Linked DNA regions of Homo sapiens. The protein of the gene in region 1 purifies or fractionates together with the protein of each later gene. This does not show direct contact. Each region holds a gene or a part of one and is shown in the gene's direction. Other genes may lie near its edges.

Region 1 (3,500 bases):
ATGTTAAACCAGCCTTGCATACCTAAAGTAACTCCTATTTGGTCATGTGGTATAATTTTTCAAATACATCATTGGATTCAATTTGCTAATATTCTTGGAGAGGAAGTTTGTTTGTTTGGTTGGTTGGTTGTTTTTTTTTTTTTTTCTTTGAGACAGGATCTCGCTCTTTTCCCCGGTCTGGAGTGCAGTGGTGCAATCATGGCTCACTGCAGTGAGAGGAAGATCTGAGAATTACCTCCCCTCCTTTCACTTGACTGGCCCATCAAACTCTTTCTTTGCTGCAAAACTCGCTGTTTTTAGTGCATTGGTTTTCTGAACAGCAGGCAAGATGAACCCGTCAGGCTGTTACTTGCTTCCAGCTGTCTCTTCTTCCTCTTCCCTCTCCTTCCCTCTCTCCCACCTCCTCACTCTACACCTTCTCCTCATGCTGCTTTGTTCATACTCTAGGTCTCAACTACCTGAGGCTCCAGCTCAGACTTCCCTTCTGAACCCCAGACCCACCCAGCATCTCAGCCAGCCAGCTGCCCACCCAGCATCTCAAAGTCCACCACCTTGTCTGCAGCGTGGAAAACTGCTCCTCTGTCAGGGCCTGCTGTCTCCCCAGTCACTCAAACCCAAACCGCCTAGGTTTCTCCCCTCTCCTTCTCTGCATAGTTGCCTTCAGTCCCTTCCATTTGGCAGCAATTCCTCTTCCCCCTCCTCCATCTCCACTGCTACAGTTTTGATTTAGGCCCACATGGCTTCCCAGAGACCCCCTCCTAGCTAGGCCCTTTGCCTCCAGCTCTGCAGAAGGCAAAGCTGATCCTGTGTGCACCCTCTGAACATCTCCAGCGCCTCAGGATAAAGTCCAGGCTCCTTAGCTGGGCAGATCAGACCCTTCTTCTGGTGCCTCCCCAAATGTGCCCTGCCCTCTGGCCATTCTGAACCTTTCATAGTTCCCCACACTCATCACATTCTCTGCACATGCTGTTCTGGCAGGAGAGCCCGTTGCCCCCCACTCAGGCACCGTCCCTTCCCCACCCAGGTGAATTTCTTCTGCATTCAGCTTCAAATTGACTGAGATGCCTGTCTCTCCTGCAGCTTCTCTCTCCCCAGACAGCCTCTCAGAGTGCTTAACACCTCTCATTCTCAAACCAGCTGAACGTTAGGCTCACCTGGGAAGCTTTAAAAATACAAAAATGTTAGCTGGGCGTAGTGGTGCATGCCTGTAGTCCCAGCTACTCGGGAGGCTGAGGCAGGAGAATCGCTTGAACCCAGGAGATGGAGGTTGCTGTGAGCCGAGATCGTGCCATTGCACTCCAGCCTGGGCAACGAGAGTGAAACTCCATCTCAAAAAAATAAAAATAAAAATAGACACCCTGGCCACAGCCCAGATAATTAATTTCAAATCTCCACTGGCCTCATGAATAGCACAGATTAGATACTAATACTCTGGGGGCCGGTCTGGACCACAGGTGTCCTCTCAGTGCAGGCATTACTGTCTATCCCAGAGGCTCCGTTGGGCCAAGAGCACCACTTTTCATACAGTGATAATGATAATTATTTCCATGCATTCTTCCACTTAATCTCACAAACTCCCTGTGAAGTTCGTAAGTATCAGAGTCCCATTTTACAAATGGGAAACGAAAGCAAAGAGGTTAAGTAATTTGCCTGGGGCACAGTGTACATTCAATGAGTACCAGTTCCTCAGTGACTTCAAGTGCAAATTGGGAGTAGAAAAGGAGAAAAGCTTTACAAGTTACTGTGTTCATTCATTCAGTGACAATTCTACAAATGACAGTTGAAGGCCTGTTCTGGGCAAGATGTTGAGATTTAGCAAATGAATAAGGTATTAGGACCCCTGCCCTTAAGAGGTCTCTTTGTAAAGGGAAGTAATGTAAATAAAATAATAGATAATTATAATACACTGAGGTTAAGTTTAGTGATCAAGGGGTGCCCTAGGGATTCTGGGAGTCCACAGAGTGCCCTGAGGGGAATCCTAGAGGCTAACTGGGAGTTAGTGGGAAGGTAAAGGGCTGGGATGGGGAGGCCTGGGAGGAAGGCCTCCCAGGTAGAGGAGTGGCTGAAGCCAGCCTCTGAGATGCCACTGGGCTTAATCCACAGCAGGAGCCACAAACCCAAAACATCTGCTGTGGCTGATGGGAAATAAAAGTGAATCCAGCAGGTTTAAGAGAAAGAACAACATTTATGTGCAGTGATAATGGGCAGCTGATGTGCCAGCTGCAGCATCTGGAGGTGGCAGGGACAGTGGTTTAATGGAAAGAACCTATTATGCACCAAAGGAACTCTCTGCATAGCAGCTGCTGTCCGTGTGGGACGATGGGCCCAGCATTGCCAGATCTGTAAACTTTTATAAAAGAAGCTGGTGTAAACTAAACATAAAATTCAGAGGCCCCCCATCCATCTGAATGGACTTCCTTCTCAGCCAGGGCACTCCAAAGTTAACCTGAAAGACCAGTTCAGGCCTTGATGGGAAGCAAGGGTTGGACACGCCTCATTATACCCTCCTCCCTTTTGGAATTCAGGAAAAGTTGACCAACATTTAACATCAACACAGACCTTAAGTCTGATAAGAAACATTTACAATCTATTCTCTCTGAAGCCTGCTACCTGGAGGCTTCATTTGCATGATCAAAACTTTTATCTCTTTTATTCTAACCCAGATATTCCTTTCTATTTATAGTAACTCTTTTAACCAATTACCAATCAGAAAAATTTTAAATCTACTTATCACCTGGAAGCTCCCCCCTCCCAACCTTGGAGTTGTCCTGCTTTTCTGGACCAAATCGGTATATATCTTAAATGTATTTGATTGATGTCTCAGGTCTGCCTGAAATGTATAAAACCAAGCTGTGCCCTGACCACCTTGGGCACGTGGTCTCAGGATCTCCTGAGGGCTGTGTCACAGGCCATGATCACTCACATTTGGCTCAGAATAAATCTCTTCAGACTGGGTGCAGTGGCTCACACCTGTGATCCCAGCACTTTGGGAGGCTGAGGTGGGTGGATCACTTGAGATCAGGAGTTCAAGACCAGCCTGGCCAACATGGTGAAACCATGTCTCTACAAAAACATACAAAAATTATCTGGGTGTGGTGGTGCATGCCTGTAGTCCCAGCAACTCAGAAGGCTGAGGCAGGAGAATTGCTTGAGCCCAGGAGGCAGAGGTTGCAGTGAGCCAAGATTGTGCCACTGCGCTCCAGCCTGGGTGACAGAGCGAGACTTCATCTAAAAAAAAAAAAAAAAAAAAGTACATCTCTTCAAATATTTTACAGAGTTTGACTGTTTTTGTTGACACTGGAAATCTGATATTGAAACTACAATTCTTTGAATGTTGGCAACAAATTCAAATCCTAACATAGTGTTCTGTAAGAGCCAAACAAAAATGTCTGTGGGATGTGTTAAACTAACTGTAGCCTAAAGCTGCCTTCTTATATATTCTAAGTTCAGCCTAAAGGTTTCTCTGTACGTAGTAAACTGTAACCTGACTAGGAATTTAA
Region 2 (3,500 bases), on another chromosome or scaffold:
CGCCGGGATTTGGACCAGTCCTGGTGGGGTTCTGTCCAGTGCCGGGATTTGGACCAGTTCTGGTGGGGTTCTGTCCAGTGCCGGGATTTGGACCAGTTCTGGTGGGGTTCTGTCCAGTGCCGGGATTTAGACCAGTCCTGGTGGGGTTCTGTCCAGTGCCGGGATTTGGCCCAGTCCTGGTGGGGTTCTGTCCAGTGCCGGGATTTAGACCAGTCCTGGTGGGGTTCTGTCCAGTGCCGGGATTTGACCCAGTCCTGGTGGGGTGCTGTCCAGTGCCGGGATTTAGACCAGTCCTGGTGGGGTTCTGTCCAGTGCCGGGATTTGGCCCAGTCCTGGTGGGGTTCTGTCCAGTGCCGGGATTTAGACCAGTCCTGGTGGGGTTCTGTCCAGTGCTGGATTTGACCCAGTCCTGGTGGGGTGCTGTCCAGTTCCGGGATTTAGACCAGTCCTGGTGGGGTTCTGTTCAGTGCCGGGATTTGGCCCAGTCCTGGTGGGGTTCTGTCCAGTGCCAGGATTTAGTCCCGTCCTGGTGGGGTTCTGTCCAGTGCTGGATTTGACCCAGTCCTGGTGGGGTGCTGTCCAGTGCCGGGATTTAGACCAGTCCTGGTGGGGTTCTGTTCAGTGCCGGGGTTTGGCCCAGTCCTGGTGGGGTTCTGTCCAGTGCTGGGATTTGGCCCAGTCCTGGTGGGGTTCTGTCCAGTGCCGGGATGCTGTCATGTTATCACGTAACCTGGCTGTTGCTCACCGATTGTCCTTGGTGAGTCACTCTTTAGCATCACTGCAGTGGAAGCAACAGGACCCGGCTGCCCCACGTTTGCAGCACGCTGCTTCTCTCAGAGACCGTGCAGGAATTTTCCTTCTCCTGGTCTGCGTGGGCCGGAGCATATGGCTGGCTTGAGTGATGCTGATGAGTTTGCTTTTCCTTACAGACCACACCACCCCAGAGCCAAGTGCACCGAGGCCTTGGCCAAGCAGAGCCTGGTCATGGATGCGGATGACGAGGCAGTCCTGAACCTCATTGCAGAGTGCGAGTGGGACCTCGGCAGGCCTCCCGGGAGCACGAGCTTCAGCCAGAAGGGGCGTGAGGCCGACTCTCGTGGTTCCCAAGGTGCGCTGCTCATCTGCCAGGAGGCCAGTGGGTCCGCTGGCTCTGGGATATATATAGTCGTTACTGGGCTTGGAGTCCACAGTTGCTCTTTTTGTGGAACTTACCTTGAAGGATAGGATCTTCATGATGTGTCTTTGTGTGCTTTCGAATGCCAGCCATTTGGACTACAGAGTTATAAATGAGAAAGTTAACATATTTGAGTATAGTCATACTGCATGATGGTTTAAATTGTATCCTTCTGAGATCACAGGAAAAGGCAAACTGTCTAAAACAGACAAGAAGCCTAGTGTCCTGTGGCAAGTGGGGCTGACATCTGCGGCAGCTGCAGGGGGGCATAGTCACCGAACTTGCAGGAAACCCTGAGCTCAGGCCGCCACGTGCAGACCTGTAGATCCCAGCAAGGGTGTCTCGGAGACTCCGTTGCCCGGTGGCACTGCCCTCCACTGGGATGTGCTGATGGGCTTTAGCTTCATTTATTCCACCTCCGCTGTGAGTTTCTGAGAACTTTTCGTGGAAACAACAGGTGGAGACCTGAGTTTGGGCTGAAATCTTAGGTTCATCTGTGCAAAGATGTCTGCCCTGTGGCAGCGGTGCTCGAGCCATGTCCTTGCCGGCACTGGGAGCTGAGTCCTTTAATCCTAGCTGCTCTGTCAGGGGGTTGTGGTCTGTGTTTATGGCTTTAATTTGCATCCGCTGCTGTTGAGATACTGGCCGTGCCTGTCTCTTCTTTTCTCTCCAGGTCTGCCCACCTTTGTTCTGGGGTTGCTTCTCTTAGTATTGAGTCCTAAGAGATCTTGGTGGTTTTGACACAGGCCCTTTCTCAGGCACAAGGGCTGCCCATTTCCTCCCTTCTGTGGCTGGCCTTTTCATTATCTGAACAGTGCTTTGAAGAGCACAAGTTTTAATTTCATTACAGTCCAGTTTATGAAGGGCACAGTTTATTTTGTTTTTTGTTTTGTTTATTTTGAGATGGAGTTTTGCTCTGCCGCCCAGGCTGGAGTGCAGTGGCGCAATCTTGGCTTGCTGCAGCCTTTGCCTCCCGGGTTCAAGTGATTCTCCTGCCTCAGCCTCCCAAGTAGCTGGGACTACAGGCGCCCACCACCACACCCAGCTAATTTTGTATTGAGACTGTCTGGACTCTCTCTTCTGTTTTGTGCATCATTTTGTCTGACTTTGCTCCACTTCATGCGGCTGGATTCTTGCAGCCTTGTCCTGAGTCTCGCAGGCGAGTGGCGCCAGTTCCCAGTTCCAAGCTCTCTTGCTGTTAGAAGTCACTGTGGATTCATTTCAGTGTCACCCAGCACGTGATTAACCCCTCGGTCTAACAGATACCATACACTATTCAGAAGCTTAAAATGTAATTTTTGATGGAATAAAACTTTTACAATGTTTTATGAAATATTTTATTTACAATATTTTAATAGAATCCAGACATCTGTTGAGCCCGCAGTTGGTACAGTACCAGTGTGGGGACTCTGGGAAGCAGGGCCGTGAGACGAGGAGGAGCAGCTGCAGAGGGTGCTGTCTGGAGAAGATGCCTTGGAGCCAGCTCTGTGGAGAGCTTCCGCCACTGTACGGAGCGGAGCCAGAGGCCTCCCGTGCCCCCAGGCCACACACGTACTTCACCCCACACCCAGGTACTTACGCGTGTCTTAGTCTGTTTTCTGTTGCTGTAACAGAAAACCACAGACTGAGTAATTTATAAAGAACAGAAGCTTATGTGGCTCATGGTTCTGGAGGCTGGGAAGTCCAAGAGCACGGTGCCGGCACCTGGTGCTGGTCCTCCCATGGCACAGGCAGAAGCATGGTGCAGGCAGAAGCAAGCTCAAGACAGAGAAATGGAGCTAGACTCATCCTTTATCGGGAACCCAGCCCTGCGCTACAGCATTCCTGCCTCCCTGCGGGCTGGCCCTGTGACCTGTTCCAGACTCATCCTTTATCAGGAACCCAGCCCTGCGATACAGCATTCCCGCCTCCCTGAGGGTTGGCCCTGTGACCTGTTCCAGACTCATCCTTTATCAGGAACCCAGCCCTGTGCTACAGCATTCCTGCCTCCCTGAGGGCTGGCCCTGTGACCTGTTCACCTCTTAAAGGCCCTCCGCTTAATACTGTTAGAGTGGCAATAAGTTTCCAGCTTAGGAACTTTGGGGGGTTCCTTCGAACTACAGCAACATGAAATCCCTGTCAACTTTTACTCCCTTCAGTTCCTTTTTAAGTAGTTAAATATTTTTCACATCGTTTGCTTTTACTATGAAATTTCTCCTGTTCTCTGTGTATTTATTTGTTTGTGGAACTCTCCAAAATGTCTTTGGAAAGAATGCAGCACATTGAAATTTATAATCCATTCATGGTTTAGATTCATGGTTGGTAAATAAGTGCTTTTTCTCTGCAC
Region 3 (3,500 bases), on another chromosome or scaffold:
GTCTCACTAGGTACTGAAATCTTTTTTTTTTAAATTTTATTATTATTATACTTTAAGTTTTAGGGTACTGAAATCTTAAGTGTGAATTAGTTAATCAGAACGCTGTTTTGAGAGCTAAAGAGGGTCCTTGTGGGAATGAAATATCTTAGAAGGGATTTTTAATAAGGTGATCAGTAAGGGGAGGTAGAAGACCTAGTAGGAGGAATATGCTTGGGGAGAAGAAGGACTTTATGGAGAAGGAGAGAAGAATGTAAGAGACAGGTTTTGTTTTTTTACACTTAGGATTATCAATTGCAAACAATGCTCAGCAAAGCCCTATAGTTAGGTGGATGTAACAGGGTAACAAAGGAATTGGGGCAGATCTACCCAATCTTCTCCTCTCAACAGTGTATCTTGGGTGCTTTTTTCTGTTCTACATTTTGGGCTGTGGTTTCGTTGGTAAATTTTGTGGTTCAAATTTCAAAAGTAACTTCTCTGGAATATTTGCACTGAAATTAACCTTTAGTAACTCGGACGCAGCAGCTGTAGATGAATTTTTGACTTCAGTTGATGCAATTGCCTATCTGTTACAGGTTTTCTGGACAGGTAGTAGTGTCTTTTTCTCTGTCCTTTGCTACTGCCCAGGAACTTCACTTTGCTTCTTTTCACTACAAGGCTGGGGACTTAAATGTATGAAATTCTTAGTCTACTCTCCTGCTTATTTCTGAAATCACTACTGACATTTTTAGCTTGAAACACCTAAAACTTACAACCACATTAGTATGTCCACTTAAATTATTGTTTTAGGTTCAAGCTGAAGAAGAAATATTAGAGAGAAATCTAACTAACTGTGAAAAAGAAAATAAAAGGCTACAAGAAAGGTGTGGTCTATATAAAAGTGAACTTGAAATTCTGAAAGAGAAATTAAGGTACAGTATTCTGTTGTAGAAAAAGGATTTTTGTGTGGACATGGAAAAAACTGAAACACTTTAAAACACAATATTTTATTGTTGTAATTATAGGCTTACATTATATAGAAGGATAGGCTTCATGACTGAAACTGTTTTCTAGCTATAGAGTTAGAATTAGAAGTGAAGTAAAATGTGTTAATGCTAATAATATTTGTAAATACGGAGACATACTGATCAACATATTTGCTTTGCATATATTTAGAGAAAATTAATAGATATAATGTCCTTGATGTATAACCACATTAACTCACTAGTAAAATGTGTATAATATCCGATGTTCTAAAAAAAAGTGTTTTTCAAATCATAAAAAATTACCTAGTCCAGACTTCTCATTTTATAAGTAAACAGAAGCCCCGAGAGTAGCCAGAATTTACTGAAGGTCTGAAAGATCGAAGTCTTCTGACTCCAATGCTCTCTTTTAGTACATCATGTTGTCCTCTCAAAACTAACACCCATCAACTTTCAGAGGTTAATATTAACCAGTCTTTATCACTTCAAACTGTTAATTTAAAAAAAAGGGGGAGCAGGAAGCAATCAATGACTGATTTGTCTAATTTTGCCATACTTTCCTTAAGGTAGTCTGTTTAGTATTTTTGCCAAGGAGGAGGAAGTAAAGATACTTTTTACTAGAGTATTTTTTAGAATCGGTTATCGATTGCAAGATATACTTTTAAGAAAGAAAGATGCTGCCAATTACACTATGATGCAATCCTTTATCACTTAAAATTTTTATACTTCATGAAAGAATTCTTGTATTTGTAATTAGATATGATTTCTTAAGTCGTTATTTTCATATTTTTCAAAAAAGTTATTCTCATATTTCAAATATAAGTGAAATAAATTGGTTAAGATATTTTTAAAACTTCACATTTGGAGTCTAACCCTCTAAAATGTCTAAGTTTTTCCTCACAGTATCTCCCAGTGTGCCATTAAGACTTGTTGATGCAGTATTTCTTAAAAGAATCCTTGTAAGAACAGAAAGTCATTGATGCTGGGCTCTTAAGCTGGTTGTACAATTATGTAGAGCCAGTTTACTTTTTCTCCTGTTTTAGGAATCCAAAACTTTGTTGATAATGTGAAATGCTATGTCAGGGATTTTGAAGTTAGATTTCCTGTCTTATATAATTAAACAGGGAGCAGAAATGCTTTTAAGACAGTAGGGCTGTCCTTCCCTACCATTTACTGTGAGACACTAGGAAAGTTATATAACCTTTTTGTGCCTCAGTTACCTCATCTGTAAATAAGAAGTAATAATAGTGCCAACCATATAAAGTTGTGAGTGCCTGGCATGCAGAAAGTAGGTATTTAGTAAATGTGAGCAGGTATTATTTTAGAATTAAGCTTCAAAAAATTTTAAAAGTGAGATTAAATAAATATGATTAAAATGAATGCATATATATTTTATTTTCATTTTTATTCTCTTTTCTTCATAGGCAGTTAAAAGAAGAAAATAACAACGGAAAAGAAAAATTAAGGATCATGGCAGTGAAAAATTCAGAAGTCATGGCACAACTAACTGAATCTAGACAAAGTATTTTGAAGCTAGAGAGTGAGTTAGAGAACAAAGACGAAATACTTAGAGACAAATTTTCTTTAATGAATGAAAACCGAGAATTAAAGGTCCGTGTTGCAGCACAGAATGAGCGACTAGATTTATGTCAACAAGAAATTGAAAGTTCAAGGGTAGAACTAAGAAGTTTGGAAAAGATTATATCCCAGTTGCCAGTAAGTATGTGTGATTACGTAATGGAAAAGAAGAATTTTACTAAAGTGTTTTAGAAAAGACTATCATTTTGTGGTTGCTTTATTAGCTTCTAATTTCTTTTTCTCTATACTTTTAGTCATGAATTTCTCTTCTGTCTAAATCTCTATTTTTTTTCCTGCACTTACCATTCTACACTTTTCCCCAGTTTCTCAGATGCCATATATAAGAATGGCACAGAATTTTTTTTAAACAGCTTTGTTGAAGTATCATTTATATACCATAAAATTTGCCTGTTTTAAGTGTACTAATCTATGATTTTTAGTAAATTTATAAGTTTTGTAACAATCACCATGATCCAGCTTTGAAACATGTCTGTCATCCCCAAAAGGTATTTTGGACCCATTTATAATTAGTCCCTGTACTCACTTCTACCCCTAGGAAGACACTAATAGTTTTTGCATCTGTAGATTTGTCTTTTCTGGACATTTCACATAAATGAACTCGTATAATATGTGCTCTTTTGCACCTGGTCTTTTGCATTCTTAGAGTCGTTCATGTTGTGATATCAGTATTTCATTTCTTTTTATTGCTAAATAGTATTTCATTATATAGATATGTTATATTTTGTTTATCCATTCACTGGCTGATGGACATTTGGATTGTTTCCACTTTGGGATATTATGAATAATGCTGCTATGAACGTTTGCATACAAGTCTTTGGACATGTTTTCATTTCTCTTGGGTAGATACCTAGGAGTAGAATTCTTGGGTCATATGGTGAATTTATTCCAAACTGTTTTCCAAAATGTCTACACTATTTTACATTCTCACCAGCAATGTATGAG
Region 4 (3,500 bases), on another chromosome or scaffold:
GCAACAGGTTACGGTAATTTAAAGAAAATATAAACTTTAAGACCCTAACCTGTTATACTAGTACTATAATTATAGCCTTGTAATAACTTTAAGTCACTTCTTAATCTCAGTATTGGGAGTTTAAATTCTTCAAGGCCAGCTAGTCCAATTCCCATATTTTATACATAAGAAAACAGAAGGTTGTATAGGGGCGATATCTCATGCATAGTTGATTTCATAACTGGGAGAAGAATCCATTGCACAGCTGCTAAGTCTACATTTGTTTAATATGTCAGATAATTATAAAATCAGAACATAATTGTGATCAACTTGGCAGTCTATTCAGTATTAATTAAAAACTCAAAATGGGCCTTTTTTTTCATGAATCCAAAGTGTTAACTTAAAAATGAATCTGAACCCTTTCCTCTGTAGTTGGGACTATAAATTGATACCATTGGAGCAACCTTCTGGAAGGAAATTTGGCATTCCCTATCAAGATTAAAAGTATATATATTGTTTGATAGAATCATTTCCTGCTTAAAATTTATGTTACATAAATTTTAACAGCATAGGAATTGTATAAGAATGTTTATATTAGCATTATTTCAAGATGTCAATAACATTTATAAATAATTTAAAAATGTCCTAAATGTCTGTTGGTAGGCTAATAGTTAAAAGTCTAGTATTTTTATGCTGTGAATTACTGTGCAGTTGTTAACAGGTTTCAGGGTATCTATATTTACTTCATGAGCAGCAGCTGAGCATATCCTTCAGCTCCTGGAACCATGCGGTGGACCTTCTGGATTCAAAACCTAACTGCACTACTTTCTAGCTGTGACTCTTGGCGAATTACTTAAAGTCAACTATAAATTGGATATACTAGTAGTTCTCATGTTACAGGGGTACCATGAGAATTAAATGAGTTAACAGTTAGGCCCTAAATAAGCATTAATAAGCGCCACATAAGTGTTTGCTGTTACAATTATGTATTGACTTGGAAGAATGTTCATGATATAAAATTAAGTGAAAAAATAAGTTGCACTATACTATAGAATATGATTTATTTAAAAAACACATAGACAAATGTAGTTTTGTTTTCATTTTGCATGTGAATAGAAAAAGGTCTATAAGGATAGACATTAAACATGTTATTCCTGAGGGAGTGGATGACTTTTCTTTTTTACTTTAGACATTTTTGTATGGTTTTATTGTAAGAATCACTTTTATAATTTTTGAAACTTTTTTCTAAAAAAAGGAAGTAAATTTTTTCTTCTATTAAATAGTGATATAAATGTATTTTTGAATGTGATTTTTAGAGATCTACACATTTCATCAACAGAGTGTCTCATAATTAGATCCTGTGTCAAAACATTTGTTGATGGAAGGGCTGGGACTTGGTGGCTCACGCCTGTAATCCCAGCTCTTAGAGAGGCCGAGGCAAGTGGGTCACTTGAGGTCAGGAGTTCGAGACCGGCCTGGCCAACAAGGCGAAACCCATCTCTACTAAAAATACGAAAACTAGCAAGGCGTGGTGGCAGGCCTGTAATCCCAGCTACTGGGGAGGCCAAGGCAGGAGAATTGCTTGAACCAGGGAGGTGGAGGTTGCAGTGAGCCAAGACTGCCACTGCACTCCAGCCTGGGCAACAGAGCAAGACTCCATCTCAAAACAAACAAAACTTTTGTTGGCTGGGTGCGGTGTCTCATGCCTATAATCCCAGCACTTTGGGAGGCTGAGGCGGGCAGATCACCTGAGATTAGGAGCTTCAGACCAGCCTGGCCAACATAAGGAAACCCCATCTCTACTAAAAGTAAAAAACTAGCTGGGCATGGTGGCAGGCTCCTATAATCCCAGCTGCTGGGGAAGCTGAGGCAGGAGAATTGCTTGAACCTGAGTGGCAGAGGTTGCAGTGAGCCAAGATTGCACCACTGCACTCCAGCCTAGGTGACAGAGGAAGACTCTGGCTCAAAACAGACAAACAAACAAAAAAACTTTTGTTGGCAGAAGGTTGAAATTTAGGAAAATCTATAATAAATATATTTGTTTTTCTCCTAGCTTTGTAGCCTTAAGTCTTATTTCTTACTTTACAAAGTAAACCCGTAGGCTAGATCAGTGTTTCTTAAATCCAGTATTCCTAAACTGTGCACTGAAGTAAATCCTCACTTAATGTTGTCCATAAGTACTTGGAAACTGCAACTTCTAAGACCCCAAACACCTCTAATATTAAACATTGAAATAAATGGGTCCTATGCATACATTTAAGAAATACTAAAAACAAGATAATTACCCACTTATTTCAGTTCAGGATGGCAGGTGGCTGGAGCCTGTCCCGGCAAGTAGGGCACAAGATAGGCTGCCATTCCATTGCAGGTAGCATTTACAGACACACACACACCCACCCACCCACCCACATTCACTCAGACTGGGACCATATAGACATGCCAATTCATGTCAGTTCACCTAATGCGTGCACCTCTCTGATGTGGGAGGAAACTGGAGCATACGGAGAAAAGCCACACAGACATGGGGAGAACATGCAGGCTCCACATAGATGGTAGCCCTGGTGGGGAAATCAAAATTTTTTTCTCATCAAAATTGTGAAGAAATGATATTGAATGAAACTATGTTATGGAGGACCTGCCGTACTGTGGAGCACCATAGTAACTCACCTGGACACTATGCATTATTTGAGAAATTTTAATGGAAACAGCAATATTGGATAGCTGTGGGATATTTGACATCTATAGGACACTACTCAAACTACCAGTTTGAGATACCACACAAGAGATTGTGTTCCATTTTTTTTGATGACACTGTGTCTTCCAAACGCTAGGTTTTGGGAGTTTGCTGTGATAAAAAGCAAGTACTATGCAAAAATCAATTTGGAACAGTAAATGAAGGTGGTGGTGTCCAAAATGATTTCAAGATTTGAGAACTTGTGTAATATCTAGTAGGTACACACATCCTATTAAGTAGTTGTGGTAATTTAGTAATAAAAATATTTATTTCAATTTATACATATTTATTTTTCGATCTGCTACTAAGTTGGTAGGCTATAAATACTTTTTAGGTTGTGGACTGAACTACTTAGTAAATGGAACTGTTAGGTATTTTTTTGGCCTAGGGGTTCCATGAAAAAAATAACTGGCATACTGAGGGGTCTGTGAACTGAGAAAGTTTAGGAACCTCTTGAACTTTTGACCAGGACACCTATATATATTTTCCATGTTCTGTGCTCCCAAAGGTTGATTTTTTACATTTATCTTTATTTTTTATTTTTTTAAATAAAAAGAATAGATGTGTGTTATACGTGTATGTGTATACATATAATGAATCAAAAGTTTCACTTTTCAAAGTTTTACTTTAAACAGCCTCATGGCCAGGCGCGGTGGCTCATGCCTATAATGCCAGCACTTTGGAAGGCCGAGGTAGGCAGATCATTTGAGGTCAGGAGTTCAAGACCAACCTGGCCAACGTGGTGAAACACCATCTCTACTAAAAATACAAAAAAATTAGCTCGGCG
Region 5 (3,500 bases), on another chromosome or scaffold:
GTTCATGCCATTCTCCTGCCTCAGCCTCCCAAGTAGCTGGGACTACAGGCGCCCGCCACCACGCCCGGCTAGTTTTTGTATTTTTAATAGAGGTGGGGTTTCACTGTGTTAGCCAGGATGGTCTCAATCTCCTGACCTCGTGATCTGCCCGCCTCGGCCTCCCAAAGTGCTGGGATTATAGGCATGAGCCACCGTGCCCGGCCTATGGTTTTATTCTTAATAAATTTGGGTTTTCTTTTTCTTTTTTTTTCTTTTGTTTGTTCCAGACAGTGTTTTGCTGTGTTGCCCAGCCTGGAGTGCAGTGGTGTGATCACAGGTCACTGCAGCCTCAAACCCCTGGGCTCAAGTGATCCTCCCTCCTCAGCCTCTTAAAGTGTTGGGATTATAGGCATGAGCCACTGCGCCTGGCCCTGTTTTATCTTTATTATGTAATTTTGAGAAGTTTTGGATTAACTACTTGAAGACAAGTGTCAGTTGTTTGCTTTGTAATGGAAGACTGGGAGTTCTTCGTGTGTGGTCGTGTCAGCCCCTTTGATGGGTGTTTCTTGGGACATTTAAAACATAATATTCCTTCACATAGTTGTAAATGCACCTGCTTGTCACATTTGTCTTTTACCTTTTTACTAAACGTGAGATGAAGAGGGAAGGGGTGAAGGTGTTGCAGACATGGTGTGTTGCTGGAGGAGACTGGGTCTGCTGCTTGAGGCCTTGTGAGCTGCAGGGGCACCCCCATGGGCAGGTGTGGCAGGTGAGTGCACACTGAGTCCTGAAGGGGCTGGCCTTCCGGGCTCCTTGGGGGCCTACAAACCTGCCTGGAGGCGGGCTGTCCTTGGGCCTTTTGTATGAATTATGAACGAGGGCCTTAGGTGTTGAGTGTCCCTGCTGCTGCAGCAGAATGGGTGCAGGCTTTGATGTTTGCTAGGATTTGCTGGAAAACTGGTGGCCAAAGGCAGAATCTGGCTCAAGGTCATAATGTATGTATCCTGCTTTACTTAAAAAATTGAGTTGTTGGCAACAGTTAAAATTTGTGTTATTCTACCTACAAATCCTGAATTTTGCTTTTTATCTCTTGAGTGTTTTTGGTTGTTGGGTTGGTGTGTTTTTTTTTTTTTTCCCGTTTTCTTTTTAAGATACAGTCTCTCTGTTGCCCAGGCTGGAGCGCAGTGACGCGAACTCTGCTCAGTGCAACCTCTGCCTCCCAGGCTGAAGCGATCTTCCTGCCTCAGGCTCCCAAAGTGCCAGGATTACAGGATTTCTGCCACCTTGCTGGGCAGAAAGTTACTTTTGATATATTCTGGTTGCATATGTTTTTTGGTTTTTTTTGAAATGGAGTCTCACTCTTTTGCCCAGGCTGGAGTGCAGTGGTGCAGTCCTGGCTCACTGTAACCTCTGCCTCCTGGGTTCAAGCGATTTTCCTGCGTCAGCCTCCCGTGTAGCTGGGATTGCAGGCGCCTGCCACCAAACCCAGCTAATTTTTGTATTTTTAGTAGAGACAGGGTTTCACCATGTTGGTCAGGCTGGTCTTCAACTCCTGACCTCAAGCAATCCACCCACCTTGGCCTCCCAAAGTGCTGGGATTACAGGCGTGAGCCACTGCACCCGGCCCTCTGGTTGCACATACTTTTTTTTTTTCTTTAAGGCGAAGTCTCACTCTGTCATCCAGGCTGGAGTGCAGCGGCACGCCCTCTGCTTCCTGCAACCTCTGCCTCCCGATTTCAAGCGTTTCTCCTGCATCAGCCTCCCGAGTAGCTGGGATTACAAGTGGGCACCACCATGGCCGGCTAATTTTTGTATTTGTTTGGTTGAGATGGGGTTTCACCACATTGGCCAGGCTGGTCTCGAACTCCTGACCTCGTGATCCACCTGCCTCGGCCTCCCAAAGTGTGGGGATTACAGGCGTGAGCCACTGTGCCTGGCCTGCATAGACGTTTTAAAAGTAGTAAGCTGATAAATATATGTGGGAATCTCAGGATCCTATCAGAAAACCATTCCAAACTTAGCACATTTTGTGGTAAATTGTATTTGGAGACTGATGGGTCGTTAACATTAGAAGGCATGGTATAGACTCCTGATTAAACACTCATACTTTGCTGTTTCATCAGGTAGAGACTCTCTTAGTTTCTAACTCTGCTATTTGATGCATGCCTTCATTCAGGAAGATGATCTGATGAAAAGCATTTTGATTTTTGTTTTCAAAACCAGAAGGGCATATACCAGAAAATTAACAGTGGTGGTCAGAAAGGAATAGAGTTGTTGGTTTTTTCGTTGTTATGGTTTTTGGTATTTCCTACAATAAACACATTAGGTTACTTATATAACATTTTTTTTCATTTTAGAATTAACTATACCACTAATAAAACATGTATTTTGGACATCTTAAAGCAATCTATAAATAACAGGCCCATTACTGGTCCCCTTGACTTAGAGATGCACACGCACACTCACTGCACTTGCTGCATTTTGTGTCACCTCCTCGTGACCACAGTGGACAGGACACTTCACCCTCAAGCGTGGGGTGGTGTGGCAGATGTGAGGAGAGGTCTGCTTTCACAAAACTTGGTGAAACAATGGCAAGATGGCCAAGGTAAAGCATTCTGTTACTTATAACTGTTGCTGTGAGTAGTAACTTAACTGTTTAAAGCAGTATTTTAAAAACCAAAAGCTGGTAAAATGTAAGGATACTTTCTCTAGGAAAAGTATGTGCTCCTGCAGCCAGGATTCTTCATGGAATGAAGGCATGGCAGGGCCTGACTGATTTTCATCTCACATCGTCATCCTGAACTCCTCTGCACAGTTACAGCTTGACATCAGCAGAGACATACCTCCTCTTCCTGTCCATTGGCTCTAAAATGGTGGGCAAAGGTCAGGTACCAGTCAGCTTTTTCCACAGAATTCCTGACATTTTAATAAGCTAAACATGCAGTCATCAGGTATTAACCCCTATTGGATCTTGGACATCAGCTTTTTCCCCCTTTTTTTTGAGATAGGGTCTTGTTTTCTTGACCAGGCTGGAGTGCAGTGGCGCAATCATGGCTCATTCCAGCCTTGACCTCCTGGCCTCAAGTGACCCTCCTGCCTCAGCCTCCCTAGTACCTGGGACTACAGGCATGTGCCACCATACCTGGCTAACTTAAAAAAAAATTTGTAGAGACAGTGTTACACTGTGTTGTCAGGGCTGGTCTCAAACTCCTGTGCTCAAGTAATTCTCCCACCTCGGCCTCCCAAAGTGCTGGAATTATAGGTGTGAGCCATCCCACCTGGCTAAAATTTATTTTCTTTATACATGTATAGGTAAACTAAGTAGTATGTGTAGAATAGAGCCATTGTCTTTCTGCTGTACACTAAGTTAGGAATCAAATTTCTTAAGCCATTTTGTCAATTATGTATATAAAAACCATTGGTGCTTTAGAAGCAGATATTTCATTAACTTTTTTCTGATTATATCATTGTACATCATCAGTTCAGTCTAAAAAGGAGTTTTTTTCATATGTATTATAAAA
Region 6 (3,500 bases), on another chromosome or scaffold:
TCCACCTCCCGGACACAAGTGATCCTCTTACCTCAGCATCCTGAGTAGCATGGATTACAGGTGCTCACCACCCTGCCCAGCTAATTTTTAATTTTTTTTTTCTTTTGAGACAGACTTTTGCTCTTTTTGCCCAGGCTGGAGTGCATTTGTGAGATCTCGGCTCACTGCAGCCTCTGCCTCCCGGGTTCAAGGGATTCTCCTGCCTCTGCCTCCCAAGAAGCTGGGATTACAGGCATGCACCACCATGCCCGGCTAATTTTGTATTTTTAGTAGCGACGGGGTTTCGCCATGTTGGTCAGGCTGGTCTTGAACTCTTGACCTCAGGTGATCCTCCTGCCTCAGCCTCCCGAAGTGCTGGGATTACAGGTGTGAGCCACCACACCCAGCCTACTAATTTTTAATTTTTTTGTAGGGACAGGGGTCTCACTAGGTTGCTGGTCCTTAACTCCTGGGCTGAAGCGATCCTCCCACCTCGGCCTCCCAAAGTGCTGGGATTACGGGTGTGGGCCGCTGCACCTGACCCTGCTCCCGCTTTCCTTACATTGTTTTGTAGCAGCTGACAATAGTTCATCAGATGATGCACCAGAACTTCACCCAGTGCTCCTCTGGATTTTCCTTATCATAGTACCAAGAGTGGCACAGCAAATACCCTGTGTCTTTGCCATTTTGCATACATGTAAATACGCCTGTAGAATAAATCCTAAAGGATAACTACTGGGTCAGAGCATAAGTCCATTTAAAATTTTGAAAGGGGGGCCAGGTGCGGTGGCCCGTGCCTGTAATCCCAGCACTTTGGGACGCCGAGGTGGGCAGATTGCTTGAGGTCAGGAGTTCGAGACCAGCCTGGCCAACACGGTGAAACCTCGTCTCTACTAAAAATAGAAAAAATAGCTGGACGTGGTGGCAGGCACCTGTAATGCCAGCTACACAGGAAGCTAAGGCAGGAGAACTGATTTAACCCGGAAGCTGGAGGTTGCAGTGAGCCAAGATCGCACCACCACACTCTAGCCTGGGTGACAGCGAGACTCCATTTCAAAAAAAATTAAATAAATAAAAAAATTTGAAAGGGGGCCGGGAGTGGTGGCCAATATCTGTAATCCCAGCACTTTGCGTGGCTGCGGTGGGAGGATCACTTGAGGCCAGGAGTTTGAGACCAGCCTGGGCAACATAGTGAGACCCCTGTCTCTACAAAAAAATTAAAAAATTAGCCGAGTGTGGTGGTGCATGCCTGTAGTCCCAGCTACATGGGAGGCTGGGGCAGGAGGATGGCTTGAACCCAGAAAGTTTGAGGCTGCAGTGAGCTATGATCATGCCACTGCTCTCCAGCCTGGGCAACAGAGTGAGACTCTATCTTTTAAAATTAAAATTAAAACTAAATTGTAAATTTTTGGCCAGGCGCGGTGGCTCATGCCTGTAATCCCAGCACTTTGGGAGGTTGAGGCAAGCAGATCACGAGGCCAGGAGATTGAGACCATCCTGGCTAACACGGTGAAACCCCATCTCTACTAAAAATACAAAAAAAAAAATTAGCCGGGCGTGGTGGCAGGCACCTGTAGTCGCGGCTACTCGGGAGGCTGAGGCAGGAGAATGGCGTGAACCCAGGAGGCGGAACTTGCAGTGAGCCGAGATCGCGCCACTGCACTCCACCCTGGGCGACAGAGCGAGATTCCGTCTCAAAAAAAATTTTTTTTTTTGATAGGCATTGCCAAGTTGCTGTCCGTAAAGATCATTGCCCTAAGTCACACTCGCATCACAGGGTGCCACGGGGCCTGCTCCCTCGTGCTCTGGTTGGCACACGTGCAGCACAGTTTTGGCCTTTACAGGATCCATATGTAACAAAAGATATCTGACTGTACTACCTTTTAGTTTACTTTTTACTTTTTATTTTATTTTTTTCTTTTTCTTTTTTGAGATGAAGTTTCACTCCTGTCACCTAGGCTGGAGTGCAATGGTGTGATTTCACCTCACCGCAATCTCTGTCTCCTGGGTTCAAGTGATTCTCCTGCCTCAGCCTCCCGAGTAGCTGGGATTACAGGCGCCTGCCACCATGCCGGGCTAAGTTTTGTATTTTTAGTAGAGACAGGATTTCACCATGTTGGCCAGGCTGGTCTCAAACTACTGACCTCAAGTGAATCCGCCCGCCTTGGCCTCCCAAAGTGCTGGGCTTACAGGCGTGAGCCTCCGGCGTGACTGTACGATTTTTAAAAATAAACCTTTTATGTTAGTATAGTTTTAAATTTATAGAAAAATTGGAAAGTGCAGGGTGTTCCCCTGTACCGCACCCAGTCTCTGCTATTTGAATATCTTACATTATGATGGGACGTGTACAATTAACAAGTCATTATTGGTAAATCACTGACTAAAGTCCACACTTGATTTGTATTTTTGCAGTTTTTCTTTTCTGTCCCAGGATCCCACATGATTTTTGGGCTGTGGGTCTCAGGCTTGTTTGGGCTGTGAGTTTCTCAGACTCTCCTTGTTTTTGATGACCTTCGAGTTTTGGGGAGAGCTGGTCAGGGATTTTACAGAATGGCCCCCTGTTGGCCCTTGCCTGATATTTTTCTCGTGATCAGACTGGGTGGTGGATGGGTTCTAGGAGGAAGGCCACAGAGGTAAAGTACTCTTCTCACCCCATCCTGTCTGGGGTCCACACTGTCCATGTGACCTCTCACTGGTGATGCTGCTGGCCTTGGTCCCCTGGCCAAGGTGGAGGGTCAGGCTTCTCCACTGTGAGGTCGCCCATCCCCTGTGCTCTCTGGAAGGAAGTCGCTTTGTTCAGCCCACATGGAAGGGGTGGGGAGTTTTGCTCCCCCTCCTTTAGAGAAGAGCATCTATAGAAGTTATTTGGAATTCTTCTACACAGGAGATTTGTCTGTTCACCCTCATTTATAATTTTTTTTTTTTTTTGAGACAGTGTCTCACGCTGTCGCCCAGGCTGCAGTGCAGTGGCATAATCTTGGCTCACTGCAATCTCCGCCTCCCGGGTTCAAGCGATTTTCCTATCTCAGCCTCCTGAGTAGCTAGAACTACAGGCGTGTGCCACCACACCTGACTAATTTTTGTATTTCAGTAGAGATGGGGTTTCACCATGTTGGCCAGGCTGGTCTCGAACTCCTGACCTCAAGTGATCCTCCTGCCTTGGCTTCCCAAAGTGCTGGGATTACAGGCATGAGCCACTGCACCTGGCCCCACTTATTAATTTTTTCAATCATTTATTATAATGGACTCGTGGATATTTATTTTACACTTCAAGTTATAATTCAATGCTAGTTTGCTTATTTTGTTGCTCTCATTGTCACAGCTTTGGCCACTGGGAACTTTCAGGTGGCTCCTGGGTCCCTGTGTCATTGCCCATCACTTTGTCTTCTGAGCACGTCCTTATTTCTGGCCCTATAAACTGCTCCAGCCTCATCTTGTCTATTTCCTCCTCCAGTCCTAGAATCAGCCATTTCTTCAAGAAGCCCCGGTTCTTTTTCTTGGAGAGTGGTCTCAGAGACCAA

The links.
Region 2: the proteins of CCDC13 (region 1) and CEP72 purify together in Homo sapiens (co-immunoprecipitation; one study listed by IntAct). This does not show direct contact.
Region 3: the proteins of CCDC13 (region 1) and CCDC18 purify together in Homo sapiens (co-immunoprecipitation; one study listed by IntAct). This does not show direct contact.
Region 4: the proteins of CCDC13 (region 1) and CEP350 purify together in Homo sapiens (co-immunoprecipitation; one study listed by IntAct). This does not show direct contact.
Region 5: the proteins of CCDC13 (region 1) and PCNT purify together in Homo sapiens (co-immunoprecipitation; one study listed by IntAct). This does not show direct contact.
Region 6: the proteins of CCDC13 (region 1) and CEP131 purify together in Homo sapiens (co-immunoprecipitation; one study listed by IntAct). This does not show direct contact.

What each region holds. Positions count from the first base shown.
Region 1 is NC_000003.12:42,763,254-42,766,753, reverse strand, and holds part of CCDC13 (coiled-coil domain-containing protein 13), read left to right. Parts: intron 1-3,500. UniProt on the Homo sapiens protein: Required for primary cilia formation and promotes the localization of the ciliopathy protein BBS4 to both centriolar satellites and cilia.
Region 2 is NC_000005.10:632,840-636,339, forward strand, and holds part of CEP72 (centrosomal protein of 72 kDa), read left to right. Parts: intron 1-929; coding exon 930-1,108; intron 1,109-2,532; coding exon 2,533-2,745; intron 2,746-3,500. UniProt on the Homo sapiens protein: Involved in the recruitment of key centrosomal proteins to the centrosome.
Region 3 is NC_000001.11:93,204,724-93,208,223, forward strand, and holds part of CCDC18 (coiled-coil domain-containing protein 18), read left to right. Parts: intron 1-786; coding exon 787-908; intron 909-2,383; coding exon 2,384-2,675; intron 2,676-3,500.
Region 4 is NC_000001.11:179,957,810-179,961,309, forward strand, and holds part of CEP350 (centrosome-associated protein 350), read left to right. Parts: intron 1-3,500. UniProt on the Homo sapiens protein: Plays an essential role in centriole growth by stabilizing a procentriolar seed composed of at least, SASS6 and CPAP. Required for anchoring microtubules to the centrosomes and for the integrity of the microtubule network.
Region 5 is NC_000021.9:46,327,156-46,330,655, forward strand, and holds part of PCNT (pericentrin), read left to right. Parts: intron 1-3,500. UniProt on the Homo sapiens protein: Integral component of the filamentous matrix of the centrosome involved in the initial establishment of organized microtubule arrays in both mitosis and meiosis. Plays a role, together with DISC1, in the microtubule network formation.
Region 6 is NC_000017.11:81,212,966-81,216,465, reverse strand, and holds part of CEP131 (centrosomal protein of 131 kDa), read left to right. Parts: intron 1-3,500. UniProt on the Homo sapiens protein: Component of centriolar satellites contributing to the building of a complex and dynamic network required to regulate cilia/flagellum formation.